Regions from separate parts of the Homo sapiens genome. Here region 2 is linked to region 1. Evidence: fine-mapped expression QTL. A gene starts in region 1. The other region holds a variant in brackets. All regions are shown on one strand. Distances are between the middles of the regions. Region 1 holds the start of TENT5A (terminal nucleotidyltransferase 5A). Region 2 overlaps LINC02542 (long intergenic non-protein coding RNA 2542).

Region 1 (5,373 bases):
GTGACATTAGCCACATTAGGAATGACATTTTGGTCAGCTAACACCCGGATAGCCAGCATGGTGATAAGGTTTAAAGTCTGTCTTCTTTCATGTCCCATCAGGCACACTGTGCTCTCATTTACCACTCCATGAAGGGTCATGAGATACTCATACTTGCGGTCTTCCAATCCCACAAAGTGGTTCTGCAAATAGGACTCCAGTTTTCTCTGCTGCTCTCCAATGTCTGAGAAGTCGATGAAAAACCTGGAACACATATACCTTTGAAGGGTCTTGATTTCATCAGAGGCGGGCCTAAAGCCCCTCACCAAGAGGTTGCAGTACTTAAGCAGGCCTCCCCCTCGGATTTCCTCTGGGTTCCTGGTGGCAATGATCTTGTTACAAAGGTGATCAAAGGCTTCCTGGAAATCGCCATAGACGCTCTCCCCGATTATTGTGGGGTGAAATGTCTCAGTCATTGGGTTCTCTGAACATTCATAAAAGAGCAGAAGAGAGTCTAATTTGATTTGAAAAGAATCTACACTGAATTCAAACTGCCTCCGGAGGGAATCCACAAATTTCAGTTCCACATTTTTGCCACTGTTGTTTGACAGGGATATAAGACTCCATCGGTCAGAGTCATTGCACACTTTAACCATTTTCTGCACATAAGCTTCCTACAATTTAAAAGATAAAACAAAATGAGCAAACCTAGAAAATAATAAATCAATAAATAAATACATCCTCTTCACAGCTGAGAATTATTTTGCTCTTTCCCTTTTGTTTTGTCAAGTTTCAGCCAAACACTACCTACAGGCTTAAACGGTCTTCTGAAAATAGAAAAAAAATACTTTTAACGAGTAGTTTTACTGTCTGGGAAAGGGACTAGAGGTAATAGTTTGAGGCTTTTGGCAGACGTAGCACAGTAGTAAGAGGTTTTGTTGTCATGTCTGACTTTTTAAGTGTTACTTTTTGAAAACGGTCTAATAGGCACAATATTCACACAGTATCCAAACAACATTCAAAAGACTCGGAAGGGCATTCAGCGGTAGGTTAGTCAGCCTCTCGCCCTTGTTCCAAGCCACCCAATTCCTCTCCGCCTGCGGCAATCAATGTTATCAGTATCTTGTGTGTCCCTCCAGGGGCACCCTGCAGTTACAATCAAATATAAACTAAATTATGACATTCCAGGAGCCTGCCTCCTCAGACAATTTTAACTAATCATATAAAACCCGTCTTGAACTAAAGTGGAGGGTGGGGAGGGGGTGCCACTATACCCTTAACATATGAACCAGCACGAAGAACCACCAGATAGACCTTTAACACGTAGTCAGCTGAATGCCGCTGTGAAATCTATTCACCTTTTCCAGTACAATAAAAAACTCATTGACTCACTTCTGCTTCAGGCTGTTATTTTCCCAAAGGCTAGACTCAAATATAATGACTCAAAAATTATTTACATCATTTCATTCTGCCAAGTATCAGAATCTACTCTGGACAAGACTCCAACAGGGAAAGCCAAGAGTTAAAACATAAGGAGAAAGAAGAGAAGAGAGGGCAGAGGAGGACCTGGGAGAAGAGTTGTAGCGCCAAAGCATCAAGTAAACTGAAACACTCAACACCGTCCACGCACGTCAGTTTACTGGTTTAAAAAATCAAAAATCAAAGAAATAACGCGCGCCCAAACTCGTGATGGCCACAGATTCATGGCATTTAACCGATGCCCCTCTGCCCGCTCCCCGTCACACCCGGCCCAGACTGGGTCAGGACCCAAGTGCATCTCGGGTGGTGTTACCTTGAGCGTGAGTGGTGTGATCTTCTCTTTGTTCACCCCCTCGGGTAAGAAGTCCAACAGGCAGTCCAGCACGACGTCCTTCACAGTCTGAAACTCCCCTTCCCCGCGCAGGTCGGCGCAGAAGATGAGGTCCAGGTCCTTGTAGCCCAGGCCGCTGTCCTGGTGCAGGACATGGCTGGCTGCCGAGCCGTTGAGGCGCACGTCGCGGACGCCAATGCGCTTCTCGGCCAGGCGCCGCCGCACCACCTTCACGATCAGGCTCGGCTGCAGCTCGAGCGTGGGGAAGTTGCCGCGCCCGTGAATCGGAATGGTCTCGCTCAGGATGCCGTCCAGCCGCTGCACTTGCTCCCAGTTCAGCACATTGCAGTGCGCCGTAGGGCTTTCGCAATAGTCCAAGCAATGCCCACCGAAGCTGCCGCCACCGCCGAAGTCGCCGCCGCCGAAGTCGCCGCCGCCGAAGTCGCCGCCGCCGAAGTCGCCGCCTAGGGGGATGTAGGGGCTGCAGGCCAGCTCGTCCTCAGACATGGCGAAGTACCCTTCACCCTCCGCCATGTAGTGCCCGCCGAGCGCCACTTGGCCCTGGTCAGTCCTAAAAAGAAAGGGAAAGGAGCGCGGTGAGGACGCGCGGCGGCGGAGAGCACGCGCGGCGGCGGAGAGCAGAGGCCCGCCAGGAAAAGAGCGCCCCCTCCCCCGATAGTTCCCTGACCCCGGGCCTCCTCGGAGACTCCCTCCCCCGGCCCTTACAGTCCCCAGCCGCGCACCGCGCCCCGCAGAGCAGCCCCGCACCAAAAGTATCTCTGATGCATCTGGAAAGCGCAAGCGAGAGTCCCGTCTGTGTCACCTGGAGGCGGCCGCCCCTTCTAGGAGCGCAGCGAGCGAGAGCGAAACCGAGAGGCGGCAACACTTCCAGGAGCTGCGAGCGCGCTCAGACAGCAAATAGCGACTTCGTCTTTCCCAGACCCCTGCCGCCTGCGCTCACCACTCCCTCCCCGCGACCCCTCCTGCGCCGCTGCCACCCCAGCTGCGGTGGTCCCGAACTGGCGGCTCTTGCTGCCACACACGCTCGTGTCTCTGGAGCTTTAGCAGTTGTGCGGGGAAAATGTCTTCAGTACTTTTTTTATACCGGGCTTCTCTGCGCTTCCGGGGCCCAGAGCGGCACGTTCGCCACACCCTCCTCATCTGCATAGGGCGCCGCCCCCTCTGCCCTCCCCCGCCCGCAGGGCACGCAGCTGACTAGCCCAGCAGTTAGTGCGGGACGACTGCCGGTGAGCGTGAGGTCCTGGGCTGTATGTGCGGATACTGTGTGCGCCCGTAGATGCGTGTATTTATACATACATTTAATTTATGTACGCCCCCTCCCACAAATCTCTTTTCATTTTCCCCAGGAGGAGACACTTTAAATGCCCCAGGAATCATAAGTGGTCATCAAAACCAGATCACGACTAAAATCCTGCAACTGCAGAAACTTCCCAAAATTCTCGCGGACTCAGCCCGTCTTTAGATCATCACGGTTGGGCTCCGGAGGTTCCTCACGACCGCTCTTTTAAACCTCGGTTTTTAGGTAGACCATTTACTCCATTGATAAACCCGATCCAAGTGTGGACTCATGAGTCCACTCTTGCACGCAAATCAGTCACGGCGCGTGAGTGGGAAGGGCTTGTTGATAACTGGGTTTCGATTCTCGAAACCTCGGGAAGCGCGCCGGGGAGCTCTGGGCGAGCCCGAGAAGGCGCGGGGGCGGCACCACGGGCCTCGGGCGTGCGCGGCTCCTGCGCACGAGTGGCTCCAAGGGGCCAGTACTTCGCGGGGGTCAGGGCGCGTCACGGAGCAGACGCGGGCGAGCAGCCAATGGCCGAGGACTGGGCGGGCCGAGTGGGCGCAGAGAGCGCGCCCGGGGAGTGCGTGCTGCCCCGGAGTCCAGGGAAAGGGCCGCTAGGTGTCCGGTGCCTTTGCTGCGAGTTCTCTGACAAAATTGGAGGCGGCGAAGCGCGTTCCTCGCGGCCCCCTAAAGTTTGGCCATTTTAAGTGCATCATAGTGTCAGTGGAATACGATTTGGTTTTCCACGAGACGTAAAAGTAGGAGTTTCAAGAATAAAATGAATTCTCTCCTCCAGCTTCGGTGACTTCGGCAGAGCTAATTCTACGCACGCTCACTCGCGCCACCACCACTCTTTGCTAGAAAGCTGTGGCCGTCTCTTCGGCAGCTCGCTGCCTCCATCAACTAACCCGGAGCAGCTTTCCCAGCGCCTAGACGCTGCCGGGGGCTGAGGTGGGGCAGAGGGGAGAATGCCAGGGTCACAGAATACTCCCCAAACCCTGCTCAGCCCTGCCCGCCCAGACTGGGAGGAAAAACAGCCCGCACCTCCTAACTGGGGGAGCCCCGGCCTAGTCACTCAAGCTGCGCGGCTCGGGGGTGAGGGGTAGGGTGCGGGGGTGTCACCCGTGGAGCATCCAGCTGCGTGACAACGCCGCCCCCTCCCGGTGCCCTGCCGAGCTGCGTCCCAAAATGGAGAAATCCGACTGTCTCTGTGGCAGAGGCCATCCCCTCAGCGCTGCGCCTAAGCACTGAGGTGCGCCTGGGGACTCTAGGACAACTACCCTGTCCGCATAGGGCCATCGCTTCCTTCAGAGCACACCCATGTGTTCCTCTGACCAGCCATCGGCGCATGAATCTATCTTAACCAGGCATTTTATACATATATATACATATGCATATTCTTGTGTGAGCATGTGTATAGAGAGAGCATTTAGTGACCTGTTACGTGCCAGGCAACAGGCTAAGTGCTGAAGATTTAAGAATGACATTTCACGTAATCTAGAGGGCATAGCACCTAGGTGCATAATTATGGTTCAGTTGCATATGTATTATGAGAGAAGTATATTCTGACGCAATCGCGTGGCGGGCTAACTACATAGGAAACGGAGAGACACCCGAGAAGGTGTCATTTGGACTGGATCTTGAAAGAATGGATGTTCTTTCAGTAGTCGGGGAAAGAGGAGAAGAGCGTTATCTACAAAGGGAAGCGTATGGAGTTGGAGAATGTTTGAGGAAGGATATGTACACTCCCGTGATTAATAAATGAGATTGGTAGTGCCTTGAGATAAGGTTTATGAGTACCAGGAACTTATTGAACACGTCTGGGCTATAACCTGTTTAGCTCCTTAACATAATACCTAATTTAATCTTCAAGAAGAAGGTATTTCCATCTCCTAGGGATCTAGAAACAGAGGAATCCAAGAAGTTAAGAAACATTCCCAAGTTCCACAACTAATAAGTTGTGGGGTCAGGCCTTTAACCCAACCCATTTGGCTGTGAATGCTGTTTAGTGGTCATTACGGGGTAACGAGTGGTCTGTAGCTTATCAGTACCTTCTTATTGGAAAACAAGACAAGCACAAATAGGAAGAAGGAACGATGGGGAGGGGAGGGAAGGGGAGGGGGAAAAGAAGAAAAGGAAATGGAGGAAGGGAGGGGAAGGGAAGGGAAAAAGAAAAGAAAAGGGGGGGAAGAGAAGAGTAAAGAAGAAAAGAGAAGAGAAAAGAAAAAGAAAAGAAAAAAGACCTGTTAAAAATGTTTCTTTCAAAGACCGGTATGAATTCTGC
Region 2 (5,373 bases), 210 kb after region 1:
GAATTCAGCTGTGAATCCATCTGGTCCTGGACTTTTTTTGGTTGGTAAGCTATTAATTATTGCCTCAATTTCAGAGCCTGTTATTGGTCTATTCAGGGATTCAACTTCTTCCTGGTTTAGTCTTGGGAGGGTGTATGTGTCGAGGAATTTATCCATTTCTTCTAGATTTTCTAGTTTATTTGTGTAGAGGTGTTTATAGTATTCTCTGATGGTAGTTTGTATTCCTGTGGGATCGGTGGTGATATCCCCTTTATCATTTTTTATTGCATCTATTTGATTCTTCTCTCTTTTCTTCTTTATTAGTCTTGCTAGCAGACTATCAATTTTCTTGAACTTTTCAAAAAACCAGCTCCTGGATCCATCAATTTTTTGAAGGGCTTTTTGTGTCTCTATCTCCTTCAGTTCTGCTCTGATCTTAGTTATTTCTTGCCTTCTGCTAGCTTTTGAATGTGTTTGCTCTTGCTTCTCTAGTTCTTTTGATTGTGATGTTAGGGTATCAATTTTAGATCTTTCCTGCTTTCTCTTGTGGGCATTCAGTGCTATAAATTTCCCTCTACACACTGCTTTGTGTCCCACAGATTCTGGTATGTTATGTCTTTGTTCTCATTGGTTTCAAAGAACGTCTTTACTTCTGCCTTCATTTCATTATGTACCCAGTAGTCATTCAGGAGCAGGTTGTTCAGTTTCTATGTAGGTGAATGGTTTTGAGTGAGTTTCTTAATCCTGAGTTCTAGTTTGATTGCATTGTGGTCTGAGAGACAGTTTGTTATAATTTCTGTTCTTTTACACTTGCTGAGGGGTGCTTTACTTCCAACTATGTGGTCAATTTTGGAATAAGTGTGATGTGGTGCTGAGAAGAATGTACATTCTGTTGATTTGGGGTGCAGAGTTCTGTAGATGTCTATTAGGTCCACTTGGTGCTGAGCTGAGTTCAATTCCTGGGTATCCTTGTTAACTTTCTGTCTCGTTGATCTGTCTAATGTTGACAGTGGGTTGTTAAAGTCTCCCATTATTATTGTGTGGGAGTCTACGTCTCTTTTTAGGTCTCTAAGGACTTGCTTTGTGAATCTGGGTGCTCCTGTATTGGGTGCATATATATTAAAGATAGTTAGCTCTTCTTGTTGAATTGATCCCTTTACCATTATGTAATGGCCTTCTTTGTCTCTTTTGATCTTTGTTGGTTTAAAGTCTGTTTTATCAGAGACTAGGATTGCAACCCTTGCCTTTTTTTGTTTTCCATTTGCTTGGTAGAACTTCCTTCATCCCTTTATTTTGAGGCTATGTGTGTCTCTGCATGTGAGATGGGTCTCCTGAATATAGCACACTGATGGGTCTTGACTCTTTATCCAATTTGCCAGTCTGTGTCTTTTAATTGGAGCATTTAGCCCATTTACATTTAAGATTAATATTGTTATGTGTGAATTTGATCCTGTCATTATGATGTTAGCTGGTTATTTTGCTCATTAGTTAATGTAGTTTCTTCCTTGCACTGATGGTCTTTACAATTTGGCATGATTTTGCAGTGGCTGGTACCGGTTTTTCCTTCCATGTTTAGTGCTTCCTTCAGTAGCTCTTGTAGGGTGGCCAGGTGGTGACAAAATCTCTCAGCATTTGCTTGTCTGTAAAGGATTTTATTTCTCCTTCACTTACGAAGCTTAGTTTGGCTGGATATGAAATTCTGGGTTGAAAATTCTTTTCTTTAAGAATGTTGAATATTGGCCCCCAGTGTCTTCTGGCTTGTAGAGTTTCTGCTGAGAGATCCTCTGTTAGTCTGATGGGCTTCCCTTTGTAGTTAACCCAACCTTTCTCTCTGTCTGCCCTTAACATTTTTTCCTTCATTTCAACTTTGGTGAATCTGACAATTATGTGGCTTGGAGTTGCTCTTCTCGAGGAGTATCTTTGTGGTGTTCTCTGTATTTCCTGAATTTGAATGTTGGCCTGCCTTGCTAGGTTGGGAAAGTTCTCCTGCATAATATCCTGCAGTGTTTTCCAACTTTGCTCGATTCTCCCTGTCACTTTCAGGTACACCAATCAGATGTAGATTTGGTCTTTTCACACAGTCCCATATTTCTTGGAGGCTTTGTTCATTTCTTTTTACTCTTTTTTCTCTAAACTTCTCTTCTCGCTTCATTTCATTCATTTGATCTTCAATCACTGATACCCTTTCTTCCAGTTGATCGAATCGGCTAATGAAGCTTGTGCACTTGTCAGGTAGTTCTCGTGCCATGGTTTTCAGCTTCATCAGGTCATTTAAGTACTTATCTACAGTGTTTATTCTAGTTAGCCATTAGTCTAATCTTTTTTCAAGGTTTTTAGCTTCTTTGCGATGGGCTCGAACTTCCTCCTTTAGTTCGGAGAAGTTTGATCGTCTAAAGCCTTCTTCTCTCAACTCATCAAAGTCATTCTCCATCCAGCTTTGTCCTGTTGCTGGTGAGGAGCTACATTCCTTTGGAGGAGGAGAGGCGCTCTGATTTTTAGAATTTTCAGCTTTTCTGCTCTGTTTTTTCCCCATCTTTGCGGTTTTATCTACCTTTGGTCTTTGATGATGGTGACATACAGATGGGGTTTTGGTGTGGATGTCCTTTCTGTTTGTTAGTTTTCCTTCTAACAGTCAGGACCCTCAGCTGCAGGTCTGTTGGAGTTTGCTGGAGGTCCACTCCAGACTTGTTTGCCTCGATATCAGCAGCATAGGCTGCAGTACAGCGAATATTGCTGAAAAGCAAATGTTGCTGCCTGATCGTTCCTCTGGAATCTTCATCTCAGAGGGGTACCCAGCTGTGTGAGGTGTCAGTCTGCCCCTACTAGGGGGTGCCTCCCAGTTAGGCTACTCGGGGGTCAGGGACCCACTTGAGGAGGCAGTCTGTCCATTCTCAGATCTCAAACTCCATGCTGGGAGAACTACTACTCTCTTCAAAGCTGTCAGACAGGGACATTTAAGTCTGCAGAGGTTTCTGCTGCCTTTTGTTCTGCTATGCCCTGCCCCCAGAGGTGGAGTCTACAGAGGCAGGCAGGCCTTCTTGAGCTGAGGTGGGCTCCACCCAGCATGAGCTTCCCAGCTGCTTTGTTTACCTACTCAAGCCTCAGCAATGGTGGGTGCCCCTCCCCCAGCCTTGCTGCCACCTTGCAGTTTGATCTCAGACTGCTGTGCTAGCAAAGAGCGAGGCTCTGTGGGCGTGGGACCC[T/C]CCGAGCCAGGCACGGGATATAATCTCCTGGTGTGCCATTTGCTAAGACGGTTGGAAAAGCACAGTATTAGGGTGGGAGTGACCCGATTTTCCAGGTGCTGTCGATCACCGCTTCCCTTGGCTAGGAAAGGGAATTCCCTGGCCCCTTGCACTTCCTGGGTGAGGTAATGCCTTGCCCTGCTTCGGCTCACGTTCGGTGGGCTGCACTGTCCTGCCCCCACTGTCCGACAAGCCCCAGTAAGATGAACCTGGTACCTCAGTTGGAAATGCAGAAATCACCCGTCTTTTGCGTCGCTCAAGCTGGGAGCTGGAGACTGGAGTTGTTCCTATTCGGCCATCTTGGAACCACTGCCCCAAGTCTTGTAATTTCTTCAGACACTTTAACCCCAATGAAACTTTCATTCCTAATCAACCCACTAGGATTTTTGCTGTCAGAATTCTTTTCACACTAATATTCTCGACCTCAAATACAGCAGTAGTTTACACCTTTATATACACCGATTTATTATAGTTTGCAGATTTGGGTAAAACTATATAGAAAATTTATTTTAAAAGGTTCACTAGGAGCAAGGTTTATACTTTCTGTGTATGAATAATACATTATCTACCTCTTTTATATCACTCAAAGTCCCTAGCTCAGGGCTAGCTGGCACACAGCTTCTTAAAAAGAATGAACTATGTTTTGTCTAACTTTCTTTCCCCAAGTTCTTGACTGAAGGACACCTTGACTGCCTCACCCTTGACATGTTATCTGTCATCAAGTCTCTACTTTCCCTTCAAAATAAAGTCTCAAATCTGCCCACTTCTTTCTATGTCATCTGCAGCACTTCAAAAGCTTCTTTACTGCAATTCCACTTCATCAATGGCTTTCAAAAACCCACTCTATTCACACAGACAGAAAGAATTCGTATTAAAAAATCCAATTATGCCCGCTGTCTTTTTAGAAGCCATAAATGGGTTTTCATTTTACTTTGAATAAAATCCCAATACCTGAGAGTGGCCTCCAAGGCCATGTATGATATGGCCCCCGCCAACTCTCTCATCTTAGCATAGGGCACTCTCCTTCCTCTTTCTAACCCAGCCACATGGGCCTCCTTTGAGCTTCACTCAGTGGTTATGGTCATTTGGCTCAAGGCCTTTGCCCTTCTTGGCCCCCTTCCTAAAAGGCTCTTCCTCAGCACTTTACATAATCATTTCCGTCTCTCCTTCCAGGTATAGAGCATCATGCTTGCTTTTCTCCCCCCAACTCTTCTTTAGACAGGAATGCTTAAGCAATTCTGTCACTGTGCACTTTATCTTACTGATAATGGGTTATTATGATTATTATTATTTGAGACAGAGTCTTCCAGGCTGGAGTGCAGTGGCACGATCTCGGCTCACTGCAACATTCGTCTCGCGGGTTCAAGGGATTCTCCTGCCTCAGCCTCCTGAGTAGCTGGGTTACAGGCACCCACCACCATGACCGGCTAATTGTACTTTTTAGTAGAGATGGGGTTTCACCATGTTGGCCAAGCTGGTCTCGAACTCCTGACCTCAGGTAATCCACTTGCCTTGGCCTCCCAAAGTGCTAGGACTGCAGGTGTGAGCCAACACACCCAGCTGATAATGAGTAATTATTAGTTATTTTCTGGTTTACTTCTAAATTATTTCTCATATCTCTAGATTATAATATCCATGAAGGTAGGGACCATGTATGTTTGTTGTTTTTGCTTTTATTTTCATCGTTGTGTACCCAGCATCTAGCACAATTACCTGCCACATAGAAAGCACTCTGAAATATTTGTCAAATAAGAATCTATGAAGTGAGACTTGAGTATTTAGTATATGCCAGGTGCAAGAAAGACAAAGTAAAATAATTCCAGGCCTCTACCCCTTAACTAATATTTCTTTCTAACTCCCTGTTCAGTGATATCATCTTAGCTTAAATTTGGCCATGGTAGACTATTCATACGAGGGAAATTACCAATTCTGCAAATCAGTGCTTCCCTCCCTGCATGACAGCCAGTTTACAAACAGATCATTTTAAATAGGAAAACTTATACATATATGTGCAAAATATTAAGGGAGCTTTCAATATACAGTGCTAGGAAAACTGGACATCCACAAGCCAAAGAATGAAGTTGGACCTCTAACTTACACCATATATAAAAATTAATTCAAAATGAATTAAAGACCTAAACGTAAAAGCTAA

Evidence for each region. PIP is the estimated chance that this variant, and not a neighbour inherited with it, causes the effect.
Region 2: its variant is the best candidate, but not a certain one, in a credible set for the expression of TENT5A in pancreas (GTEx, PIP 0.55).

Annotation. Positions count from the first base shown.
Region 1 is chr6:81,749,819-81,755,191 of GRCh38, forward strand. TENT5A (terminal nucleotidyltransferase 5A) reads right to left here and starts at 2,863. Exons shown (of 3, transcript NM_017633.3): 1 at 2,613-2,863; 2 at 1,772-2,360; 3 at 1-653. The coding sequence starts at 2,323. RefSeq lists enhancers at 2,524-3,024, 3,885-3,934 and a silencer at 2,935-3,064.
Region 2 is chr6:81,955,640-81,961,012 of GRCh38, forward strand. The region is part of intron 3 of LINC02542 (long intergenic non-protein coding RNA 2542); the gene reads right to left. Among named protein-coding and RNA genes, the nearest start is that of LINC02542, 140 kb to the right of the region's middle. The variant T/C (reference allele first, on the strand shown) is at 3,183.